7 linked regions of the Homo sapiens genome follow. The protein of the gene in region 2 purifies or fractionates together with the protein of the main gene of each other region. This does not show direct contact. Each region holds a gene or a part of one and is shown on either strand. Other genes may lie near its edges.

Region 1 (3,500 bases), on a different chromosome or scaffold from region 2:
GCCTGTTCTCTCGATCCCAGGGATCACCAACCACGCTGCCTTTTCCTAAATCAGGCGCACGCACCCCAAGGGCAGGGGCCCCAATTCCAAGTGGCTGGCTGAGAGCTGAATGTGGGACCCAGGGACTGCCTCATGTCCTGTTGCCACCTGTGGGCTCTGAAGGGTCTGTTGCAGCATGCAGATAACCCTCCCCTCACCAGGCCAGGGGATAGGCTGGATAAGGGTGGTCACAAGGACCCAGCATGCCAACCAGGGTCCTTCTAGAATCCATTCTATGGATGCTGGGAGAGGCCGTCTTCCTGCTGGGCATGGGCTGCAGGACACAGGGATGAGGTGTGTGGCAGAGAAGCGGACTGAGGACAGACAGGGAGACAGCAAGCTGGATTCTGGCCACAGCACCTGAGCCCGGTCCAGCGCGTCTCTGAATACATGAGCCAAAGCCCTGCAGGAACTCCTGCCCCCGACCCACCCTCTGGCGATGGAGACCGGGCTCCTCCCCCCGACCCACTCTGGTAATGGAGACTGGGGTCCCATCTGTCACCGGACACTCCAAGACAAGCTTGCGCCCCAAGACCTCTGCTGCTACCTCAGACAGGTCGCTACTGTGTCCCTGCCTTGAGCCTTAACAGGGAGATTGCCTGTTCTTCTCTGTGGGCAGGAGCCCCTGCCTTGGAGGCCTGAACTGGCCCTGGGATTGCCACGCTCCCCTCCCAAGGGGCTTGAAACAGAAGTCCCTGAGCTCTGCCACCTTGGTCAGTGCGCACAGAGTTTACTCGGAGTGCTCAGGCCCAGGGCAGGGCTGCTCCTGGCACCTCCCACCCCAAGTTCCATTCAAGTGCCACCAGGCTGGGGTGCCCTGAAAATAGGGGGGTATCTCTGCTTAGGGGAAAAGCAAAAGCATCCTAATATAAACCTTGGCGTGTGTACAAAATGGCCTGCCCTGTAACTGCACGAGAGGAGAGGGGCCTTGGCTGTTATCAGCATCTCCTCCCCTAGAATAACTAGAGTGGCCCCCTTTGCTGAGGGGCATGTTGCAATTTTAGAGGAAAAGATTAGGGCACAGCACGGTGCACACATTTACCCAAGGTCATGTCACCAGAGCTGGGACTAAGGGGCCGTGCTGGGGCTCCCAGATGATATGGCAATTCTGGGCACTTTATTTTTATTTTTGTTGAGACAGGGTCTTGCTCTGTTGCCCATGGTGGAATGCAGTGGCGTGATCATAGCTCACTGCAGCTTCCAACTCCTGGGTTCAACCGATCCTCCCACCTCAGCCTAAATAGCTGGGACTATAGGTGTACGCCACCATGCCCAGTTAATTAAAACAACTTTTTTTGTAGAGACAGCGTCTCCCTATGTTGCCCAGGCTGGTCTTGAACTCCTAGCCTCAAGCCATCCTCCCACCTTGGCCTCCTAAAGTGCTGGGATTAAAGGCATGAGCCACCTATTCCTAGCTAGCCCCATTTCTTTGGGGGGAACTGAGGCTCAAAGCTCTGTGCTGCCTGTCTCTGCAGCAGGAACACTAACCACTCCCGGCCCTCCCTACACTATGTACCCATCCACAGTTCTGTCCCAGCTGCCCCTAGCCCTGACTGTCTGCCAATGCCTGGGCACCCCTTACCTGCTCGAGTCAGAGAGGGTATGGTTCCCAGAGAGAGGGCCCGGCTGAGGCGGCCAGGCAATGAGGAGGGTGAGGTCCGTCGAGGAGACCGGAAGAGCTGCTGGTTGGCGAGGGGCAGGAAGCTGGGCGGGCTGGGGATGAACAGAGACGCTGGAGAGCCTCCGACACTCGGGTGAGGGATGGCCAAGCTGGGGCTGGTGGGGAAAAGGCCGGCAGAGTCTCCTGGGAAGAACCTGCAAGGGCCCGTCAGGCACGGGACAAGAAGAGGGTCAGCGGGAGGTCCTGGAGGCAGCCTTGCAGTGGGTCCCACCCCTCTCCCACAGTGCAAGGTGGGGGCCTCAGCTGGGGTCCCAGAGGAGGCGTGCGTTAGTTAAAGCAGAAAAGCAATCCGACCACATTCACGCCATTAGGAGCGGGTGGCTGGGAGGTGCCAGCAAGACCCGGCCCTCCCCACATGCCCCCTCCTACCCCCTCGGCTCACAGCAAACTATCTCCACTACGAGTCTCGGTATTAAAGTGACACTGTCGCCTTTGCCAACCTCATGCCAACCCTTTCGCCTTGAAGCAAAAATGCCCAGCCCCGTGCCAGGCACTCAATGAAGGTTAATGGACTTGGACTCCTTGCCACTTCTTGTTCTGTGCCGAGCCTTCCCACAGAGCGGCCGGGCTCAGGGACATCCTGGCTCATCTCCCAGATGGGCCTGGATCATAGGAAGTCAGGCCCCAGCACGGCTCTGGGCACCCTCTGTTCCCAGGTGTGATTCCTGGAAGTCCTCCCACAGCTCTGCCCTTAGAAGGCTGCCTCCTGCTCTCTGGCCTTGCACTCTGGAAACTCCTCTGAAGTTCCTGGTAGAGCAGAACTGGGGGGCAGCCAGGCCTTGGAACCCCCTGGAAGAGGCTCTCACAGGACAACGCCAAAACCGAACTTAGAAGAGACCCATCCACGACCGCAAGGCTGCCCGAAAGACGGAAGGTGACAGTGTCTCTTTAACTCGAGATGGTACAAATCACACAACAGGACCTGATGGCCCCACGCCAGAACGTCAACCATGCTTCTGATTAAGGCACCCAATTACAGAGGGAAGAGAGGGACAGAGGCAGTTAATACATTAGTCCACCGTCTGGACGGAGCTCCGGGGGTCCAGCCTTACCTCGGTGCCAAGGGACAAATGAGCCCAGTGGACAACGTGCTGGTGAGCGGGCAGGCTGGCCCACGCCCTGCAGGAGCCGGGGGCTGCTTAAGGGACCTGCGCCCAGCATGACTGCATGCTCGGGGATCGCTAGCCAAGCCGCGCGCCACCAACCTCCCTGCTACTTTCCCTCTAAAAAAGTTTTATAAGGAAAGTGTGGGGCCAGCTCTTGACTTCCCGGAGAATCATGTAACCTTTCTAATGCCTTCCAAGGTGCCAGGAGACCACCTGGACTTCAGAACCAAAGGCGAGGCCATGTTTGGCGAATGTGGGCATCAAGGCAGGAGCTGAGCTGGGGACCCTGGGGAAGGCCCCGGTCAGCCGGACTGGACACATCCTTGTTCCGCCTGCTGACCTGTGATTCCCAGGCCCAGCGCCCGCTGCTTGCCCCCAAGACTCCAGGGAAGGCTCCACCTCTACACAGAAGATGAGGTTTTGTGTCGTCATGTTAGAATTCTGATTCCATTTGGCGGGACAGCGCAGCGACTTCAGGGAATGACCCTGAGGGCACCTTTAGGCAGGGGCAGTGAAGGTGTTGCTGGGACCTTGGGGCATGACCCTCCATGGGAGGGAGTTTGTGGGGCAGGGCTCTGCGCTAGGCTTCCTGTGCCCACCCTGCCCGGCAGCACAGACATAGCCAAGAGTCAGCCAAGGGTGACCAGGTCCCCCAGTGACCTGAGAGTACCGTT
Region 2 (3,500 bases):
TTCAGTGTTAGGAAATCAATTAATGTTTTGTATCACATCATTAGAGCAAAAATAAAAAGTCATCCAATTGTATAAATAGTTTTTTGAGTTATTTAACTAATGGAACAGGAAAGTACTTCTTACAAAGAGTAAATTGCTCACACCAATGACAACTTTGTATTTAATGGTAAAATAGTAGGGACATTCTTGTTGAAATCAGACATTTACTAACCCAAAAATCTCAGACTATGCACTAACACATTTAACAGAAGCAAGAATAAATGAGGCATTCCACAAAAATCAATAATACAAAGGGAAGGCTTAGTTAAGAAATTATGTTAAGAATTATGTTAAGACTGTCAGTTAACAATTTGGGAGTAAAAACCAACTTAGAGTCTCATCTTACACGGTATCTCAAAAGAAATTCCAAATTCATCAAGGAATTACATTTCAAAACAATCAAATCATAGAAAAACTAGATGAAAATTTAATAAACAACTTATAAAATCACTAAAGGGAAAAGCTCTTTGTCAACTTAGCATAACTGAAAATCAAAGAAACAGAAAATAAACAGGACAGGTTTGACTGCACAAAAAAAATTCTTTTTGCTAAAAAGTCTTAACATCAAATAATGTACTCGAAGAAACAAAACACAATCAATGTTAGACAAATGACGTTCTTTCTCTGAGAAGAGAATATTAAAATGAATAACATCAAGAACAACAATAGAAGAACAAGCCAATGACATAGGCAGTTCCCAGAAGAGGATTTACAAAGAGATAACATTTTTGCTTATCAAATTTAACAAAGAATTTGGCAAGGGTTCTGTGAAACCAGTCACCAATATGCTAGTAAGTGTACAAATTAGCACACCACTTTTGGGATTTGATAATTTCTATTACAAGCCATGAAAATTGTATGTCTTTAATCCAGTGATTCTGAGAATTCACCTTAAGTAAATTATATGAAAGAAGAAAAATTGTGTACAAAAATATGTCCACCTTGGCATTTTTTCTTCTTATTCTTCTTTGCCTCACTGTATTACCACATTACTTTTTTTCTAATAGTAAAAAATACATACACACATGTAAATGCCAACAAGAGGTTAAGTTCACTACGGTAAATTTACTCAATGGAAAATTTTTCTGTCTGACTGTTATGTTTATGCTGACTATGTTGAGTAAAAACCCCACAAACTATAGAATTAGACATTCAGAATGATTTCAACTGTGATTAAAATTACAAAAACCCACGCATAGAGGGGAAAAAAAAAAAACCTAAAAAAAGATTTCTACATCCCAACCAGTGGTTGCATTCTAGCAGTTGGAAGGTGGGTGATTTTTAAAATCTTTTATCTTTATCTCTGTCTTTTGTGTGTGTGTGTGTGTGTGTGCTTTTCTAATTAGTTAATGATAATATGAAAACCTGAGATTAAAAAAATATATATATATAATGCTTGGTGGGGAAAAAGGAGACCAGTAAGGATAGCTTTCAATTTTTTCCTTCTGTATCAGAGAAACAACTTGTGGTCTGGGTTTGTGTTTGAGGCATGGCAGGGCGCAAGGTTTACACAAAATTAAAAGTTATGCATTGAATTCACCAAAGCTCAGCTGATGAGGCATGACCTTTCAGGGTCAGAGATGAGCATTTCAAGATGGGGCTGGGAACGAAGCATGAAGTGAGAGAGAGATGTGGGAGTGTCAAGTGAGACAGCAATCCCACCCAAATGATGGGAGAACAGCAACAAGAACCTGATTCATGATTTTTTTAAAAAAAAATTGAAAAATAAACAAGTTTCCTCTGTTCACAGGTCAGCCATCACATTATAAAAATGTGTATTACATAAGCAGTAAAAGACGACATAAAAGAGACAAAATGCCAGCTTCATAGTGAAGAGTAGGTGAAGGTAAGAAAAGAGATTTAAAATATAATTCCCCCAAAGCTTGGCAAGCTATCAATAGCATCAAGAAGTTAAGAACTTAAATATTTTCCAAATTGAATATTTAGGTTAAATCACCTTGTCTATCTTAACGGGACAAAAGGAAGAGAAGATTCACAGTAGAAACTGAAAATGAAAAAACTATAATATCACAATATAGAAAACAGAGGGGCAACCTCACAGAGGTTTATGCAAATTTATAAACAATTGTTAATACTCCCTATATTAATCTATTAAAACCAACCATCAATTTAAAAAAAACAAAATTCAATCATCTTTTGTCAAGGAAAAACACTAAGAAAATGAAAAGACACAGAGTAAAATGATAGCATAATCTTTGGTTTATCAGGCACATTTTGTGCTAGAAAGGAAGGGAATAGGACAAAGTAATTTTTTTTTTAGTAAAAAGAATTGAGAAAGTAACATGGAGACTCCACAAGAGTGAAAGTTACAATAAATAATGAAAACTTAAAACACTCAATTTCTGTTCCAATTAGCACAGCAAACAAGTACATAATGGGACCATGCAGGAAATGCAAAAGAAATTTTAAAAAATGGAAATATAATGTAGCTGGAGCCCTTAGTGCCCCTCCTGTGGAATACCCATGATCAAAATAGACAGAAATTAGAGCTCTGAACAACCCAACTAATAAGGTAGACTAGCAGATCAGGGAGAAGTACATCATAAATCAAGGGTCTATGCTCTCTTTAGAAGAATAGAAGTGTCTTTCACAAAATTTACCCCATTCCCGAGCACAGGCAATGGCAATTTTACACTCCTCATTCTCGGACCACAAAGAAAATAGCTGTTTGTTGGTCCTGACCACTTAGCTGCAGTGCCATATTAAAAATACAGGCATTTCTATGCATTCTTTTACACAGGCTCTTCACGTGTGAGTCAGAGACAAAATCAGACGTACATTGCTGAAATATTGTAAAGAAACAATATTTATACACAAAACACAAACGCAGTCACCACTTTAAGGAAAGTGGGAATTCCTAAGTGTTCTTTTAAACATGAAAGGGAGAAACGAGGTGAGCCAAGGCTACACTCAAAGATCCTGGAAGTGGAATGGGAGTGACCATGGCCAATGCACAGCTCTGATCACCCTAGGACCCGAGGCTGTCTGTCTGCAGGGGCTGAACTCGGAGGGGCTAGGGAACCACAGCATGGGAGAAGATGCAGAAAGGCCTAGAGATGCTCCTAATCCCTAGAGGGAAAGGCACAAGGTCATCCATCCTCCAGTGATCGTGACGTGTTCCACCATAAGACTTCACAGGGTCAGAAAAGGAATGGGTTCCAGGTGCTGCAGAAAGCAAACCTATCTCGCAGCCAGAGTGTCTGAGAGTAGACAAAGCAAAGCAGCCTCGTCATGTGGAGGGCTCTCTGTCACCAGAGGTATGCAAGCAAAGGCAGGGCTATGTGCTTATCCAGGGTGCTGTAGAGGGAATTCATGCACACAGCCGTGTCTTACTGAAGGGTGTTTTTGTTTGTTGATTTTTAACCCTGAAGTAGAATCTCCTTTCAATATAAGGCTGTTTTCCAATGTTTGGTGAAAAGGAGAGAAAGTATGTGACGTGT
Region 3 (3,500 bases), on a different chromosome or scaffold from region 2:
GACACTTGATGTTAGAGAAGAACAGGTAGAAGCTAAAATGAGTAAATATCTGATTAATGATACCTAACTTACAAAAGAAGTGAATTGAAAAAAAGTTGAATCTTAAATTAACTAGATTAGTAAGTATTGCTGCCACAAAACCTGCAAACATACTTAGATGTATTTGAAAGGAAAGTAGCTACTTTTCCTTCATGCTTCTCAAGACAGGAGGTAGTTCCCACCTACTCTTCATAGTTGGAAAAAATTAATGGCCTATTTTTCTCAAGGAGAAGACAAGAAATAAGTTGGCAAATTTTAGTTTTCTCTCCTTTCTCCAATTGGCAGCAATACAAAGGATTTTTTTTGTGAATGGCCGATGGGCCAAAGGCAAAGTCATCACATGGTTCAAGAATTATTTTAAAAACACAGAATTTTCATCATTAGCCAGTAATGGATCACTTTAGTAGGGAAAGTATGTGAACACATGATCTTATCACAAGGGCAAGCTGTGGGCATGTTTGGGTTTTTATTTTGTTTTGGGTTTGTTTTTGTTTCAGGTAATGTGGGTATAGGCATTATACTGCCTCTGTCTAGCTGAATGGTAAAAATGATAGGGATGTATCTGAGTATCCCCATATCAGTGTTGTTGTCAACTTATGTCTCCATCTAGCTCCCTCTTTCATTTCTGGTGCACCAACAGAGAGCAACACTAAAAATAAACTGTTTGGCCAGGCACAGTGGTTCACGCCTGTAGTCCCAGCACTTTTGGAGGCCGTGGCGGGTGGATCACTTGAGGCCAAGAGTTCGAGACCAGCCTGGCCAACATGGTGAAACCCCGTCTCCACCAAAATTACAAAAATTAGCCAGGCATGGTGATGCGTGCCTGTAATCCCAGCTACTCGAGAGGCTGAGGCATGAGAATCCCTTGAACCTGGGAGACAGAGATGGCAGTGAGCCAAGATGGTGCCACTGCACTCCAGCCTGGGCGACAGAGCGAGACCCTGTCTCAAAAAATAAAAATAAACTGTTTGAAAAAGATAATATACTTCTTTTTATTTTTTATTCAAGTTTTAATTCCTCTACCGCTGAACATCTTTCTGACAACAGATAGTAAACCCAAGTATTTATTCTTACCAAATGCAGCCTTAGATTATTTCATTGATGGTTTTTTCATTGTCAACATTCCATTTTCATTTTATGTTTATTATAATACCTTTCTCTAAAGATTCTTAAAAAGAATTGTCTGTGTAGTTTCTGTGTCCTCCAAGTTGCCTTTTAAAAAAGTGTTTGTTTTGATTCCTCTGTTATTTGAAGTGTTCTCCTCTCATGTCTGATAATTCTTGGTTGCCTGCTTATATGTAAGTAAAGGAGCTGATCAACTCTTTACTCTTACATATAAGCAGACAATCAAGATTTAGCAGATCAACTAAAGGGCTGATCTGATAATAATCTCCAAAGAAGGCTCTTTCTTTCTTTCTTTCTTTCTTTTTTTTTCTGAGACAGAGTCTCGCTGCGACACCCAGGCTGGAGTACAATGGTGTGATCTTGGCTCACTGCAACCTCTGCCTCCAGGGTTCAAGTGATTCTCCTGCCTCAGCCTCGCGAGTAGCTGGGATTACAGGCATGCGCCATCATGCCTGGCTAATTTTTTTTTTTTTTTTTGTATTTTTAGTAGAGACGGGGTTTCACCATGTTGATCAGGCTGGTCTCGAACTCCTGACCTCAGGTGATCCACCCACTACGGCCTCCCAAAGTGCCGAGATTACAGGCATGAGCCACCGCACCTGGCCCAAAGAAGACTTTCTAAAAGTCCCTCCTGGAGGACAGTGGCCTGACTACCAGCATTCTGGGAGCCACATAGGGAAAATGGGTTCATAGTAGCCAGTATGTAAATGTATATGTTTCCATTGTCTCTATGATACCTCTGTTCTAAACTCTGGCAGTCTTCTAGTTCACAGACATTCCAGTCTTGGGGGCAGGCAGTTTCTGGGTATATGAACAGGCAAAAGGAACTGGGAAGGGGAGGCTAACTTTCTTACACAGACTTTGCAAAAATCCTGTATATTTCAATCACCCCCTTCATCACCATGGTAATTCCTTAGCTTTCTGGGGTATTCTGTTGTATAAATTGGTTTCGTTCATCACTTTACCATCTATCTGCCTAAAATTGTGTTTTCTTCTTTTAATAAATTGTTTCACACATTAATCTTCTTTCCAGCTCCAACATTTTATTATATTTTAGTACATTCTCCTTGTTTTTGTATCTTTATCCTCAAACAAGAACAAAAACATAAAACATTTTGCTGTCATTTTAGTAGGAGACTAGGAGAAAGAATATAGTGAGTGCAGAAAGTGAAATTAGCGCATACTTGAAATGGTTCTTAAATTTTCTCTTCTTCTGGACACCTAAGTTTCTCTGTGCCAAAAGTCAACATTGTAGAAAGGTACAGTAGAGTGACAAGAGCATTGAGTGATTCCAGCAAAACCATCAAAACAAGTGCATGAAAATAACTTCCTCAGATAATCTTAAGGTAGGGAGTATGTAAAAGGCAATTTTTGAATCTTACTGGAAATTCAGGAGACATTCTTACCTTCTGAACTGATTCATACAATTCTCATATTTGAATTATCTGTCTGATATAGCACAAGAATATGTTCCTTTACATAGTTAATTTATTGCATTTTTCCCCCTTCCTTTTTCCCTGCAGCATTGACAAAATCTCTAAGATAACCTCTCCAGTATTAATAATTCATGGGACTGAAGATGAAGTCATTGACTTTTCACATGGCCTCGCATTGTTTGAACGTTGCCAAAGACCTGTGGAGCCTCTCTGGGTTGAAGGAGCAGGTCACAATGATGTGGAACTTTATGGACAGTATCTTGAAAGGTTGAAACAGTTTGTGTCACAGGAACTGGTAAATTTGTAAAATATTCTGTAAATTTGCTACTGGGTTTTCCTTTCTTGCTGAACTGCACTCTTTGGTAAATAACATAAAACCTGAAGGTTTTGTTTGCAAATCATGTCAGTTGCCTTCATAAATGTACAGGTAATGATTTGTTAACAGACTTAATGAAGGTTTTAATTACCAGAACTAAAAACTGGAAATAACAGTACCGTGCAGTCAGGCTGTGTAATTTATATTTTTTCTGTGAATTTTTTTTTAACATCAAGATGAGTACTGTATGAGATTTTAATTCTATAAAATCAAATGCTGTAAAAGTATTGCCAAATGCTTTTGCATACTAGAAACAAATTTATAAATATTTTTAAAACATCTCAATATATTAAATCTTATCCTGGAATACAACTGTAATATTTTGAAAAAAGCTATGTATCTAAAGCAATTTAAGTACTCATAATGGAATGAACTGTAAAAGAGATTTAAAACCATGCAAGTTCACTAGAATTAACCTAAACCCTGTTGTACAGGGATAGAGGTTTAAAGTTATTTTATTGTAAAATACATTGAATTTTCTGTATACTCTGATTACATACATTTATCCTTTAAAAAAGATGTAA
Region 4 (3,500 bases), on a different chromosome or scaffold from region 2:
TTGAGGTCAGGAGTTAGAGACTGGCCTGGCCAACATGGTGAAACCCCGATTCTACTAAAAATATAAAAATTAGCAGGGCATGATGGTGCACACCTGTAATCCCAGCTACTCAGGAGGCTGAGGCAGGAGAATCGCTTGAACTCGGGAGGCGGAGGTTGCAGTGAGCTGAGATCGTGCCACTGCACTCCAGCCTGGGTGACAGAGACAGACTCTGTCTCAAAAAAAAAAAAAAAAAGAAAAAAAGAAATTTCTATTTTTCCCTTTGTAACTAGCACCTTGTGAAAAGATACTTTGAGACTGTGAAAATCCTGCTCCTCATCAAACTTTCACTAGTTTTATCATCTACTAAAGATAAGTGGTTCTCAACTGGAGGATTTTGCACCCCAAAGGAGCATCTGGCAATGTCTGGAGATATTTTTTGTTCTAATCTAGGGGACTACGGGAAAATAGGCATAAAGGACATTGTTGACACAAATGACAAAACCTGAATATAGGTTTTGCACCAGATATTATATCAATGTTAAATTTCCTGATCTTTACAACTGTATTTAGTTACATAAAAGAATGGTTTTGCTTTTAGAAAATATATACTAAAATTGTCAGAGGCAAAAGAGCATAATGACTCAAAACTTATTTTCAAATATTTCAGGGAAAAAAATAGAGACAGAACAATTAAAAAATTGGCGCAAGATATAAACAACTGGTAATAAAATAACATATTTACAAGGAATCTGGAGAGGTGTGAGCTATGTTACAATTGTTGATGTAAATTTACAAAAATTTAATAAGTCACATCAGAATTTCATACACTTTAAAAATCAATAACAAAGCAAAATACTCACTTGTAAATACCACTACCAAAATGATTGCCAGATCAATGAAGAGAAACTGGAAGTCTCCTAGGTTACTTAAGATCTACAGAAGTAATTTTAAAAACATTATTAGTTTTTGGGAATTATTTTTATAGCGTCCCCAGGTTTTATTAATAGTTTGGATTTTCCCTATAATGACAACTTAAAAATGACACTCGGACCTGCTTAAAAATTGAAATATAAGTGTCTCTGAAACTAAATATAACATATATTTATAAATATTTGATTTAGTATATTAGTATAAAAGGCATCTCCTTAAAATTCGTTCAATAGGCTGGGCGCGGTGACTCACACCTGTAATCCCAGCACTTTGGGAGGCCGAGGCGGGCAGATCACTAGGTCAAGAGATCGAGACCACCCTGGCCAACATGGTTTTTTTGGCAAAAAGAAAACACAAACATTTACTCAAAATATTCAACGTTGTAAATTAGTATCTTCATCTAATACCATCCCTTCTGATACTTTCTACAAACGGTCAAATGGGATAGTGTCACCATGAGTCTTTAGGATGTCAGAACACTTTGATTATAAAATCTGATAGGGTACCTGTGGCCATCGCTGTTTATACTTTTTCTCCAAATGCAAACCATTCTCCAAATTCAACAAACCACTGTTGAAACATCTTTTCTCATTTTAACTTTTTCAATTTGCTATTCAAACTACAGTAAATTGAAGGTAAATTTATAGGTACTACTCACAGAAACAATTACTAATGGATGCATTCAAAATCAAACACATACGCTCAACATCTTAATTTACGGTGCACATTAAGTGTTATCTCTGCACACAATGTTAATACTCACAGAATACAGCAGAGTAACACTGAAGTACTGGATAATGCTGTACAATGCCATGAATTTAAACACACAGAAGGAAGTTATTAAAGCAGCACGGCCTTCCCTGTGAAAAGAAATCAAATGTCGGCATATGAATAGAAGCATTTTAAACTCCTTTTCCAAACCACAATTTTATCTTGACAGATGAACATCAACATTCAACGGCTACAACAAAGTGCTTATCCACCAAAAGAACTAAACCAAATGAGGAGTAGCAATCAATCTGTTACTAATAAGTTACAGCTCAAATGTGCTAATCTGCTAATATTAAACAAATTCATGTTACTTTTTATGATAATTTTCTCTTCTGTATTATCAGAGACAGAGAAAAAGGGATGAGAAAAATTTTAATTTGTACTACCTGATAAGGTTTGGCACACAGGAAATACTAGGAGTCTTAGAGGTAAAGGGAGATGCCACTGAAGCTTCGAGCTCCGATAAGGAAATGCCTCCGTGTGCCCTCTTCAAAGCCTAATAATTTTAAGAAAACTGGTTAAGTTTTGTGAATATGATTTAGGCTAGAGTAAGAACTATAAAACTAAATCACAAAAACTATACTTACACCACAATCATTTGCGCCATCACCACACATCCCAACAAAATAACTAAGAAACAAAACAATGTTAAGATTTTAATTAATTTCTTAAACTACAAAACATTTAACTTATTAAGACTTTTCTATTACAGTATTATAAAGAGCTAACACACCAAGATTCCCCCAGTGGAACTATGAATCTTTTCACTATAATGAACACAGGTGTGCTGCTTTGCAAACAGCACCAGACCACAAGTGAAATGAGCTAGGTTATTGTCCTATTTCTGTCACATTATCGGCAAATCATTTTGGTGTCTCAATTTCCTCATCTTTAGAGCAAAGCGCTTGTGCCTACAGTCTTTAGTATGGCTACTTTTAACGTTATCAGTAAAAATTTATCCCTTAATAACCTGAAACATAACTGTTTACTAAAATGATTAGCCACTTCTATCAAGATAGAGCACCTGAAAGAATGAAGTCATAGAGAAAAAACTGTGGATATTGTACTTTAGCTAAATAAAAAGCACATGAGACTCTTTTAAAGCGGCACTTAAAGTTCTGAACTATCTTATAGATCACAATTATATATATAAATATGAAATATTAGTATAAGAAACATATAAAAATTATTTTTCTGATGCTGAAATGAAACCATCATTCATCAAAAACCAAAACCAAAAAAGACACCAATACTTACTCAACATTTTGCAATGCTTCTATCAACTGTGTCTTCTGATCAGGTGCCATACGGGCAAACACGGTGCCATGCAACATCAACTGGAAACAATAATACAAATTTTTTTAAAATACTGTTGCGATGCATTCATGTGAGCACACACATACACCCAAATTACTTACCTTAGGAACAAGGTCTTGAAAATGCTCCAGTATCACTGAGAATGATTTTCCATTCATTGCAAAATGATAACGAGTCATTTGAAGATCCTCTAAGCTATCATGGACCAATTTAACCGGAATAGCCTGTGTATATGAGACATTGGGAACAATATTTAGGCAACCAAACCAAGTAAAACAATTCTATTTTAAACATATTTGTTCTAAAACTGAATTCTTTCATTTGATATGTTCCACAACATGATGAAAGCCGGACATTTATTCAAAGTAAAAAGAAACTCAATTAAATATCAGCTTCAATTTGAAATGATGCATGAACTGAGTATGATGGACCACCTGCATCATTTACCACTAGTTACCTGAAGAATACGATAAACATCTGGAATTCTTGTACTTTAAAAC
Region 5 (3,500 bases), on a different chromosome or scaffold from region 2:
CTAGCAGAGTCTTGGTATTTTTCCTTGGGAATCTCCCCTTTCCTAGTCACACCCGTCCATACAGGTAGACAACTGTCGACCCATGAAAAGGAAACACACTCCTCTTTGTTCTCCCTGACCTTAGCTGTCCTCAGGATAAAACTTCCCACAAGATCAACTTCAGAAGCTGTACGTGTTTTGTGTGGCTTATACAACATGGTTAAAAAAAATCTGAGCCCAGATTTAATAATGGTTAAGTATTCATCCAGAAAAACTGGATTTCTGGCTCCTCTTGCAACTCAGAGGATTGGACAAGCTGGGCCAGCATTCCCGCATGGGCACAAGGAGCTGGAGCTCAGAGGCACTCCCAACTCTGGATGAGGTGTGGTTTTCACAGCTCAGCACTGGCCCAGCTCCTCCAGTTCCCACTTGGCCCTGTGTTTCCTGCCTGGCCCCTGTAGGGAATGAACTTGAGATTCTGAGGTGAAAACAGGAATCTCAAAACAGCCTTGGCAGTGGCTCACACCTGTAATCCCAGCTCTTTGGGAGGCTGTAGCAGGAGGATTGCTTGAGCCCAGGAGTTTGAGAATAGCTTGGGCAACACAGTGAGATCTCATCTCTACAAAAAAATTAAAAATTAGCCAGGCGTGGTGGTGCGTGCCTGTAGTCCCAACTACTTGGGAGGCTAAGGTGGAGGATCACTTGAGCCCAGGTCGAGGCTACAGTAAGTTATGATTGTGCCATGGAACTCTAGCCTGGGTAACAAAATGAGACCCTGACTCTAAAAAATTAAAAAATAAAGAAACCAAGTTGGGCGCGGTGGCTCATGCCTATAATCCCAGCACTTTGGGAGGTCGAGGCAGGTGGATCACGAGGTCAGGAGGTCAAGATCATCCTTGCTAACACAGTGAAACCCCGTCTCTACTAAAAATACAAAAAAACTTAGCCGGGCGTGGTGGCGGGCGCCTGTAGTTCCAGCTACTTGGAGGCTGAGGCAGAAGAATGGCGTGAACCCGGAAGGCGGAGCTTGCAGTGAGCCGAGATCGCACCACTGCACTCCAGCCTGGGCAACAGAGCAAGACTCTGTCTCAAAAACAATAAATAAATAAAAATAAAGAAACCAGTCTTGGAGCTGTGTTTCAGAGAGCTTCGGCATTTTTTCAGGTGTCATCTGCCACCCCGGGCAGGGCAGTACAAATGTAGCCACTTCTCCAGGAACTCCCCATTTTCCACTCAGAACTCCATGAGAAGACCCACAGGCTCCTTTTCCTGCTTCCTGTTCCTTCCCTGCAGAAAGATCCTTTCTCTGCCAGGCTTACCTGCCCACTCCAGCATGTCCTCAATATTCTCCGCTGCCCCAGGCACAACGCGAGTCTGATCTGTGTCCTCTAGCCTCAGGATGAAGCTCCCCTGGTACTTCTTAGCAAAGATGTAGTTGTACAAGGCAGTGCGGAGGCCACCCAGGTGCAAGAAGCCTGGAGAAGAGAACAGCTCAGATAAGACAGGGAAGATAAGCTAATAGGCCTCAGCAAGGGGCAAGTAAGCACTACTGTGACAGAATGTTGCAATAAATTTAAAAGACCAGCAGGACACATTGGCTCACGCCTGTAATCCTACCACTTTGGGAGGCCAAGGCCGGGGGGATCACTTGAGCCCAGGAGGTTCCTGTAGGTTTTTTAAGACAAGAGTCTCACTCTGTCACCCAAGCTGGAGTGCAGTGGCACAGTCTTGGCTCACTGCAACCTCTGCCTCTTGTGTTTAAGCAATTCTCATGCCCAGCCTCCCGAGTAGCTGGGATTACAGGTGTGTGCCACCACGTCCAGCTACATGTTTGTATTTTTGGTAGAGACAGGCATTCGCCATGTTGGCAAGGCTGGTCTTGAACTCCTGGCCTCAAGTGATCCCCCCAGCCTCGGCCTCCCAAGTGCTGGGATCACAGGCAAGAGCCATCACACCTGGCCAATTTTTGTATTTTTAGTAAAGATAGGATTTTGCCATGGTGGTCAGGCTGATCTCGAACTCCTGACCTCAAGTGATCCATCTGCCTTGGCTTCCCAAAGTGCTGGGATTACAAGCGTGAGCCATTGTGCTTGGCCTGAGTTTGAGATCTGCCTGGGCAACATGGTGAGACCTTGTCTTAGCAAAAAATATAAAAATTTAGCTGGGCATGGTGGTACATGCCTGTGGTTTCAGTTACTGAGGTGGGAGGATCACCTGAGCCTGGGGACGCTGAGGCTGCAGCGAGCCATGATCACGCCTCTGCACTCCAGCCTGGGCAGCAGTAGAGTGAGACTCTGTCTCAAACAAAAAAAATTAAAAATTAAAAAATTTTTTTTCAAAGACTAAGAACTAGTTACCCCTGTGCCCTGTCTCCAGACACATTTAATCCCTCATCCTGAAAATGGAAACCACCCAGGATTTGGAGCATGTCATTTTATTAAAAGGCTCCAATTTTCCCCAACTGCATCCACCACTCTATTTTGATATTTGTCTCAAGGCCAAGTTTCGCCTGAAAGAGAAGCAGAGAGTTATTCATTGAGGCCATATCATGTACATTTAACTTACAGAAATTCAATGATGTGCGCTGGGAAAAAAATTAATTACAAACAAACTAGAAATTTAAAATACTGTACAATCATATTGTGGGCCAGGTGCAGTAGCTCACACCTCTAATCCCAGCACTTTTGGAGGCAGAGGCACGAGGATCACCTGGGTCTCTAAATTTGAGACCAGCCTGGGCAACATTGTGAGATCCTGTCTCTACAAAGAAAAAAAAAATCGGTGGGGCATGGTGGCTCACACCTTTAATCCCAGCACTTTGGGAGGCCGAGGCGGGTGGATCACAAAGTCAGGAGTTTGAGGCCAGCCTGGCCAACATGTTGAAACCCCGTCTCTACTAAAAATACCACAAAAAAAATTAGCTGGGCATGGTGGTGGGCGCCTGTAATCCCAGCTACTTGGGAGGTTGAGGCAGGAGAACTGCTTGAACCCAGGAGACAGAGGTTGCAGTGAGCCGAGATCGCACCATTGCACTCCAGCCTGGGCGACAGGGCGAGACTCCATCTCCAAAAAAAAAAAAAAAATCACATTTTGCATATGCAGTCTATGCAGTGTGCATGACTGTCCACGTCGTACATTTTAAATTTCATCTACTTGAGATTTTTACTTTTTTAAAGAAACAAAATTCATTTTTGAAATTTGAGATGGGGTCTCACTCTTGCCCAGGCTGAAGTCCAGTGGTACAGTCACGGCTCACTGCAGCCTCAACCACCCAGGCTCAATCAATCCTCCCACGTCAGCCTCCCAAGTAGCTGGAACTACAAGTGTACACCACCATGCCCGGCTAATATTTGTTTTTTGGTTTTTTTTTTGCAGAGGCAAGGTCTCACTATGTTGCCCAGGCTGGTCTCAAACTCCTGGGCTCAAGCAATCCTTACACTTCAGCCTCCCAAAGTGCTGGGATTACTGGCATGAGCCACCATGCCTTGCCAAGATTTTCACCCTAATTGCTGGCTTTAAAC
Region 6 (3,021 bases), on a different chromosome or scaffold from region 2:
GGAAAAGATAAGAGTAACATGAAAGAAGAAAAGTAGAAAGGAGTTAATAAAGATAAAAGCACAAAATGCTGAAATAGTCTAAATAGTAGAACCCAAATTTAGGGCTGCAGGTATCCTGTCTCTGCAGGTGTTCTCTTCTTCACGCAAGTACTGTTCAATCCTGCAGAGTAAGGAGAGGATGGGAAAGTTTTTCACAGGCACCTCGGAGCCCTCCTAACTCTGTGACCCCACATAGGTAAAGTGTGGCCCAATAATAAGAGGGAGCCAGGCTTACCTGACTAGGGCAACTCACAGAGCTCATTGTCCCGAGAGAGAGACGTGGGCAAGAATACAGATGTCCCCACGACAGTTTTACTAGATTCATTCATGATACACAAACCAGATGAGCCATTGAGAGGAATTTGGAGGAGCCCTGTTGGGCCCCTCACCTCCAAAACTAATACTCAAGACTTACTCTGACCTGCTGTACTTTGGGTCTCCAGAGCCCAGAAGCAAGCAGTCCTCTGTGGCAGTCAGGCGTATTTGCAAAATAGAGTTGTAGGTCAGTTGATCGAAGCTGGGAATGCCGTTTCCCAAAAACAGTCAAGTTGGAAAAGACTGGAAGGATCATTTAGTGTAGTGCTGTACCCCTACCTCCAGTCTGGTGACTGTGCCCCTCTTCTCTAACAGTCTCAACAGATGATTCTCTAGCTCAGGGGTCAGCAAACTGCAGCCCGCGTGGGCCAGCAGGCCTGTTTCTATAAATTTTTATTGGAACACAGCCATGGTCATTCATTAACATATCTGTCCATGGCTGCTTTCACACTACAATGGCAGAGTTGAGTAGTTGCGACAGGGACCATATGGCCTGCAGAAACTAAAATATTTACAATCTGGCCCTCTAAGTAAAAGATTGCAGACCCCTGCTCTACTACATCCAGCAACAGAGAAGACACTCCCTCCTAACATTCCCATTCTTTCTGGACAGCTCCTGTCATTATCAAGGTCTTGATTCACACTGCAGTCTCCCTTGCTGTGACTTCCATCTTTAGACCTTAGTCTTAATTCTGGGATCATCTAGAACAAATCTAATCTCCCTCCTCTATAGCCCATATTAATCATAACTCTCATAAGTGGCAAGTGACTAAAACTCTATCAAAGTAGCTTAAGCAAAAAAAAAGGGAAAAAAAGTAGCTTAAGCAAAAAGAATGTATTTGCTTATATAACTGGAAAGACTAAGAAATTGGAGTTCTAGCCTCAACCATGCTTAGATCCAGAGTCTCAAAAATATCAGGGCTCAATCCCAGCACTTCGGGAGGCCGAGGAGGGTGGATCACAGGGTCAAGAGATCGAGTCCATCCTGGCCAACATGGTGAAACCCTGTCTCTACTGAGATACAAAAAATTAGCCGGGCGTGGTGGTGCACGTCTGTAGTCCCAGCTACTCAGGAGGCTGAGGCAAGGGAATCGCTTGAACCCTGGAGGCAGAGGTTGCAGTGAGCCAAGATCGTGCCACTGCACTCTAGCCTGGGTGACAGAGCAAGACTCCATCTCAAAAAAAAAAAAAAAAAAAAAAAATATATATATATATATATATATATATATGTATGTATGTATGTATGTACACATACATACCAGGGCTCTGTGCCCACGCCTTAGCCCTGTGTATCTTTTTTTGGCCTCAGTCTGCAGGCAAGATCTTTTCACAAAGTAGAAAGATGGCCAGTGGCAGCCCTAGAGTCTACTCTTTCCAGCTTTGCAGCCCTAGAGCTAAAAGACTGTCTTTCGTCTACCATGATACGTCAGCCAGTGAAGACACGCTGCTCTGCTCGGGTGACATGCCCAGTGCTCACTGTTTTCCAGGTCCAATAGCATCACATATTCAGACAGACTGGCTTAGGTCTTGTGCTAGGAATTTTTTTTTTTTTTTTTTTTTTTGAGATGGAGACTCGCTCTGTTGCCCAGGCTGGAGTGCAGTGGTGCGATCTTGGCTCGCTGCAGCCTCTGCCTCCCGGGTTCCAGCGATTCTCCTGCCTCTGCCTCCTGAGTAGCTGGGGTTACAGGTGCACACCACCACGCCCGGCTAATTTTGTGTTTTTAGCAGAGACAGGGTTTCTCCATGTTGGCCAGGCTGGTCTTGAACTCCTGACCTCATGTGATCCGTCTGCCTCAGCCTCCCAAAGTGCTGGGATTACAGGCGTGAGCCACCGCACCTGGCCTATTTTGTGCTAGGATTGATGGCCCCAACAGGACCAGGTGTTTTGAGTGTTCCTCAAAACATCTGGAATATGGAAGACAAGGAACACGGTTAAACAAAACTAGAGATCACATCACAGCCTCTTGTCCTTCCTCCCTTCTGCTCCAGTCTTCTTGCTCTGCTCAAAAAATCTCTTCCTCCAGCCCCAATGCCTTATGTATAAAATGAGGAACTTTCTGGCTCTGCCTCTTTGCCTCGTCCCTTGCCTCCTTTTACCACGGTTCTGCTCCTTGTCCCTCCCCCACCCCTCCCCCGACCACCAGCCACAAGAATGCATATAACAAGAGATGGAGGCTGGGTGCATATGGTTCACACCTATAATCCTAGCGTTTTCAGAGGTGGGAGGATAACTTAAGTCCAAGTGTCTGAGACCAGCCTGGGCAATAGAGCAAGACACCATTGCTAGAAAAAATATTAGCTGGGTGTGGTGGCACACACCTATAGTCTGAGCTACTTGGGAGGCTGAGGCAGGAGGATCCCTTGAGCCCAGGAGGGTGAGGCTGTAGTGAGCTGTGATCATGCCACTGTGCTCTAGTCTGGGTAATAGAGGGAGACCCTGTCCCTTTAAAGAAAAGGGGTTAGGGGAGAGATGCGGGGCTGAGCCTGAAAACATGGCCTTCACCCCTTAGGCTTAGGAGAGGGCTTCAAATGGTGACCTATTTTGTTTTCTTTGTTTCTTTACTGTTTTCTTCTGGGCTACTGGCATTCTGTGACCATGTGTCTGCCTGTGAGTCCTGGGACAGGCCCTACTCAGGCCCTGGGCATATCTTGATACCAAGGTTCCAC
Region 7 (3,500 bases), on a different chromosome or scaffold from region 2:
CCACACGTGGTGGCTCACACCTCTAACCCTAGCACTTTGGGAGGCCAAGGTGGGTGGATCATGAGGTCAGGAGTTTGAGACCAGCCTGGCCATCATGGTGAAATCCCGTCTCTACTAAAAATACAAAAATTAGCCAGGTGCGGTGGTGCGTGCCTGTAATCCCAGCTACTTGGGAGGCTGAGGCAGGAGAATGGCTTGAACCTGGGAGGTGGAGGTTGCAGTGAGCCGAGATTGTGCTATTGTACTCCAGCCTGGGCAACAGAGTGAGACTCCGTCTCAAAAAAAAAAAAAAATACTCCCCATCCACGTGGAGCCTCCTGTGTATCCCGCCCTGATCACACCTCCCCCAGGTCCCCAGGGTCACCTCTTTCCTACAATCATTATTAAATTATTTCCTGAAATTCTCATTTATGCATTTCTATATTTTCTATGTATGTGTACAGCTGTAAACAATCTAGAGTAATGGTGTGCATATTTTCAAACTTCACAGAAGTGGTATTTACTGTCGTTCTCCTGCAACTTGTGCTTTTTGCCCAGCATGGTTTTGCGATTTATCCCTGTTGCCATGTGTCGCTCCAGCTCAGTCACTCATTTCACACTGCTGTGTAAGGACTTCGTTGCGTGAATCTATCACAGTGCATTTATCTGGCTGAGGAATACTGTGGTTGTTTCTGATTTTTTTTCCTTCTTTTTAAATATGTTTATTAGTTATAAACTCTGTTCTGACATTTTTTTTTTTTTTTGAGACAGGGTCTTGATCTGTTGCCCAGGCTGGAGTGCAGTGGCACGACCATGGCTTACTACAGCCTCAAACTCCCACGCTCAAGTGATCCTCCCGCCTCAGCCTCCTGGGTAGCTGGGACCACAGGTGCACCCCACCACACCTGGCTAAGTTTGAAACATTTTTTGTAGAGATAGGGTTTCACTACGTTGCCCAGACTGGTCTCGAACTACTGGGCTCCAGTGATCCTCCCACCTCAGCCTCCCAAAGTGCAGAGATTACATTAGTGAGTCATCTCACCTGGCCTGTTTCTAATTTTTGTGCTCAATGAACACCTGTAAGAATGTTTCTAGGGCAGTAGAGTTTGAACTGACCACAACCCACAGTAAGAAATTGTTTCTACTGGTGGCTGGGCGTGATGGCTCACACCTGTAATCCCAGCATTTTGGGAGGCTGAGGGGGGCGGATCACCTGAGGTCAGGAGTTCAAGATCAGACTGGCCAACATGGTGAAACCCCACCTATACTAAAAATACAAAATTAGCTGGGTGTGGTGGCGCACGCCTGTAGTCCCAGCTAGTTGGGAGGCTGAGGCAGGAGAATCACTTGAACCCAGGAGGTGGAGGTTGCAGTGAGTCGAGATTGTGCCACTGCACTCCAGCCTCCATTCTCAACAAGAGCAAAACTCTATCTCTAAACAAACAAATAAATAAAATTATATATATATATATATATATATATATATAGAGAGAGAGAGAGAGAGAGAGAGAGTTTCTACTGGGCGTTCATGCAAATGCACACAAAAACGTCAAACAAAAGTGTCCCAAGGCCAGGCGCAATGGCTCATGGCTGTAATCCCAGCACTTCGGGAGGCCAAGGCAGGCGGATCACCTGAGGTCAGGAGTTCGAGACCAGCCTGGCCAACATGGTGAAACCCCATCTCTACTAAAAATACAAAAATTAGCTGGGCGTGGTGGCAGGCACCTGTAATCCCAGCTACTTGGGAGGCTGAGGCAGGAGAATTGCTTGAACCTGGGAGGCGGAGGGTGCAGTGAGCCGAGATCACACCATTGCACTCCAGCCTGGGTGACAAGAGCGAGACTTCATCTCGGGGAAAAAAAAGAAAAGTGTCCCAAAATAATATGGATCCCTCCCATCTGTGACATACTGACATCATCTATTCCATAAAAAAAAAAAAAGTGCTGGTGGATCATGAGGTCAGGAGTTCAAGACTAGCCTGGCCAAAATGGTGAAACCTCATCTCTACTAAAGATACAAAAAATTAGCCAGGTGTGGTGGCGGGCACCTGTAATCCCAGCTACTTGGGAGGCTGAGGTGGGAGAATTTCTCGAACCCCAGAGGCAGAGGCTTCAGTGAGCTGAGATCGTGCCATTGCACTCCAGCCTGGGCAACAAGAGCAAAACTCTGTCTCAAAAAAAAAAAAAAGTCCTGTTGGAAACCAATAAATTGATGTCAGGACTCCTATCACTTGGAGTTGGGTAAACATATCCCTGGGGTATGAACCTAGGAGGGGACACAGGGTGTATGCACATTGTGGAGAAAGAAGAGGCAAGGGACTAGGGCTGGAGACTCCGTGGGGCCACAGGATGCTCAGCAAAGGGTTCAGACTTGATTCTGAGGGGGCTGTGAAGCTGTAGGAGGGATATCTTGACCAGATTTGTGCTTTAGAAAGACCCCTCTGGGGACAAAATGGGGATAGACCACTTTGGAAAACAGTTGGCAACCCCTGATAAAGGTAATGATGTATCCACCAACACTCAAGTCTGCAGGTCCAAACCTTCACTACAGGTCTTTGTACACCCCCTGCCCTCTGCTGGGAACACTCTGCTCTCTGGATGGTTGTCTCCTTTTCCCCTGTCCCATCTCAGCCTTTTTTTTTTTTTTAAATAGAGCCCAGGCTGGTTTTAAATTCCTGGCCTCAAGGGATCCTCCTGCCTCAGCATCCCAAAGTGCTGGAATTACAGGCATGAGCCACCATGCTCAGCCTCTGGTCTCAGCTTTTTTTTTTTTTCTTTGGTGAGACAGAGTCTCGCCCTGTCACCCAGGTTGGAGTGCAGTGGCATGATCTTGGTTCGCTGCAGCCTCGACCTCCTGGGCTCAAGCCATCCTCCCACCTCAGCCTCTCAGTGGCCTCAGCTTTAATGGCACTTGCTTTAAGAAGCCTCCCTTAATCCCTGCTCACCCCACAGTGAGTCAGGCACTTTCCCTGGGATCCCATAACTTCCTGTGCCTCCCCCAACTCCAGCCCCCACCCCTCTGCCTGTGCCTCCCCCATCCCGGTCCTGACCCATCTGGCCTGTGCTCCTCATTGTGGTTGGTACGAACCACTCTAGGTCATCGCTGTGTGGTGCCAGGTCCCCCCACTGGACTGGGCACTCTGAGAAGGCAAGGGTCAGGGATGTCTTTTTATTGCTGTCAAGAGGCAAGGGCAGGTGATGGTGTGTTCTGTATGGATGACGAGTGTGGTAGTGATGGCTAACTGCCTTCCAAAAGCTGTACTTCCCCTCTGTGCTGTCACATTGCCACCAGGAACCACTGCCTAGCCAGGGACTCCATTTTCCAGCATGCCTTGCACCTAGGCAGGCTATGTCACTAGCTCTCACTGATGGAATGGCAACGGAAGTGCTATGTCCATTGCCCCAGGATGAGCTTAGTGTATTTAGCCTGGGCATTACTTTTTCCACTTCTGGCCAAAGCAGTTAGGCAGGGGGCTACCCTCAACCTCTCTTACCCTTTCCTTGGGAAGCAGAGCGTTGCAA

What was found.
Region 1: the proteins of GPR55 (region 2) and TMEM201 purify together in Homo sapiens (affinity purification with mass spectrometry; one large-scale study listed by BioGRID and IntAct). This does not show direct contact.
Region 3: the proteins of GPR55 (region 2) and ABHD17B purify together in Homo sapiens (affinity purification with mass spectrometry; one large-scale study listed by BioGRID and IntAct). This does not show direct contact.
Region 4: the proteins of GPR55 (region 2) and ATP13A3 purify together in Homo sapiens (affinity purification with mass spectrometry; one large-scale study listed by BioGRID and IntAct). This does not show direct contact.
Region 5: the proteins of GPR55 (region 2) and EARS2 purify together in Homo sapiens (affinity purification with mass spectrometry; one large-scale study listed by BioGRID and IntAct). This does not show direct contact.
Region 6: the proteins of GPR55 (region 2) and TM9SF4 purify together in Homo sapiens (affinity purification with mass spectrometry; one large-scale study listed by BioGRID and IntAct). This does not show direct contact.
Region 7: the proteins of GPR55 (region 2) and COQ8B purify together in Homo sapiens (affinity purification with mass spectrometry; one large-scale study listed by BioGRID and IntAct). This does not show direct contact.

The regions. Positions count from the first base shown.
Region 1 is NC_000001.11:9,605,911-9,609,410, reverse strand, and holds part of TMEM201 (transmembrane protein 201), read right to left. Parts: intron 1,855-3,500; coding exon 1,622-1,854; intron 1-1,621. UniProt on the Homo sapiens protein: Critical regulator of angiogenesis and endothelial cell (EC) migration. Promotes the migration of endothelial cells, which is essential for angiogenesis.
Region 2 is NC_000002.12:230,918,743-230,922,242, forward strand, and holds part of GPR55 (G-protein coupled receptor 55), read right to left. Parts: intron 1-3,500. UniProt on the Homo sapiens protein: G-protein coupled receptor that binds to several ligands including 2-arachidonoyl lysophosphatidylinositol or lysophosphatidylglucoside with high affinity, leading to rapid and transient activation of numerous intracellular signaling pathways.
Region 3 is NC_000009.12:71,866,194-71,869,693, reverse strand, and holds part of ABHD17B (alpha/beta hydrolase domain-containing protein 17B), read left to right. Parts: intron 1-2,687; coding exon 2,688-2,907; 3' UTR 2,908-3,500. UniProt on the Homo sapiens protein: Hydrolyzes fatty acids from S-acylated cysteine residues in proteins. Has depalmitoylating activity towards DLG4/PSD95. Has depalmitoylating activity towards GAP43. Has depalmitoylating activity towards MAP6. Has depalmitoylating activity towards NRAS.
Region 4 is NC_000003.12:194,428,003-194,431,502, forward strand, and holds part of ATP13A3 (polyamine-transporting ATPase 13A3), read right to left. Parts: intron 3,225-3,500; coding exon 3,102-3,224; intron 3,021-3,101; coding exon 2,941-3,020; intron 2,314-2,940; coding exon 2,271-2,313; intron 2,180-2,270; coding exon 2,070-2,179; intron 1,773-2,069; coding exon 1,676-1,772; intron 916-1,675; coding exon 843-915; intron 1-842. UniProt on the Homo sapiens protein: ATP-driven pump involved in endocytosis-dependent polyamine transport. Uses ATP as an energy source to transfer polyamine precursor putrescine from the endosomal compartment to the cytosol.
Region 5 is NC_000016.10:23,550,851-23,554,350, forward strand, and holds part of EARS2 (nondiscriminating glutamyl-tRNA synthetase EARS2, mitochondrial), read right to left. Parts: intron 1,455-3,500; coding exon 1,299-1,454; intron 1-1,298. UniProt on the Homo sapiens protein: Non-discriminating glutamyl-tRNA synthetase that catalyzes aminoacylation of both mitochondrial tRNA(Glu) and tRNA(Gln) and participates in RNA aminoacylation for mitochondrial protein translation.
Region 6 is NC_000020.11:32,161,714-32,164,734, forward strand, and holds part of TM9SF4 (transmembrane 9 superfamily member 4 isoform 1 precursor), read left to right. Parts: intron 1-3,021. UniProt on the Homo sapiens protein: Associates with proteins harboring glycine-rich transmembrane domains and ensures their efficient localization to the cell surface.
Region 7 is NC_000019.10:40,696,387-40,699,886, forward strand, and holds part of COQ8B (atypical kinase COQ8B, mitochondrial), read right to left. Parts: intron 1-3,500.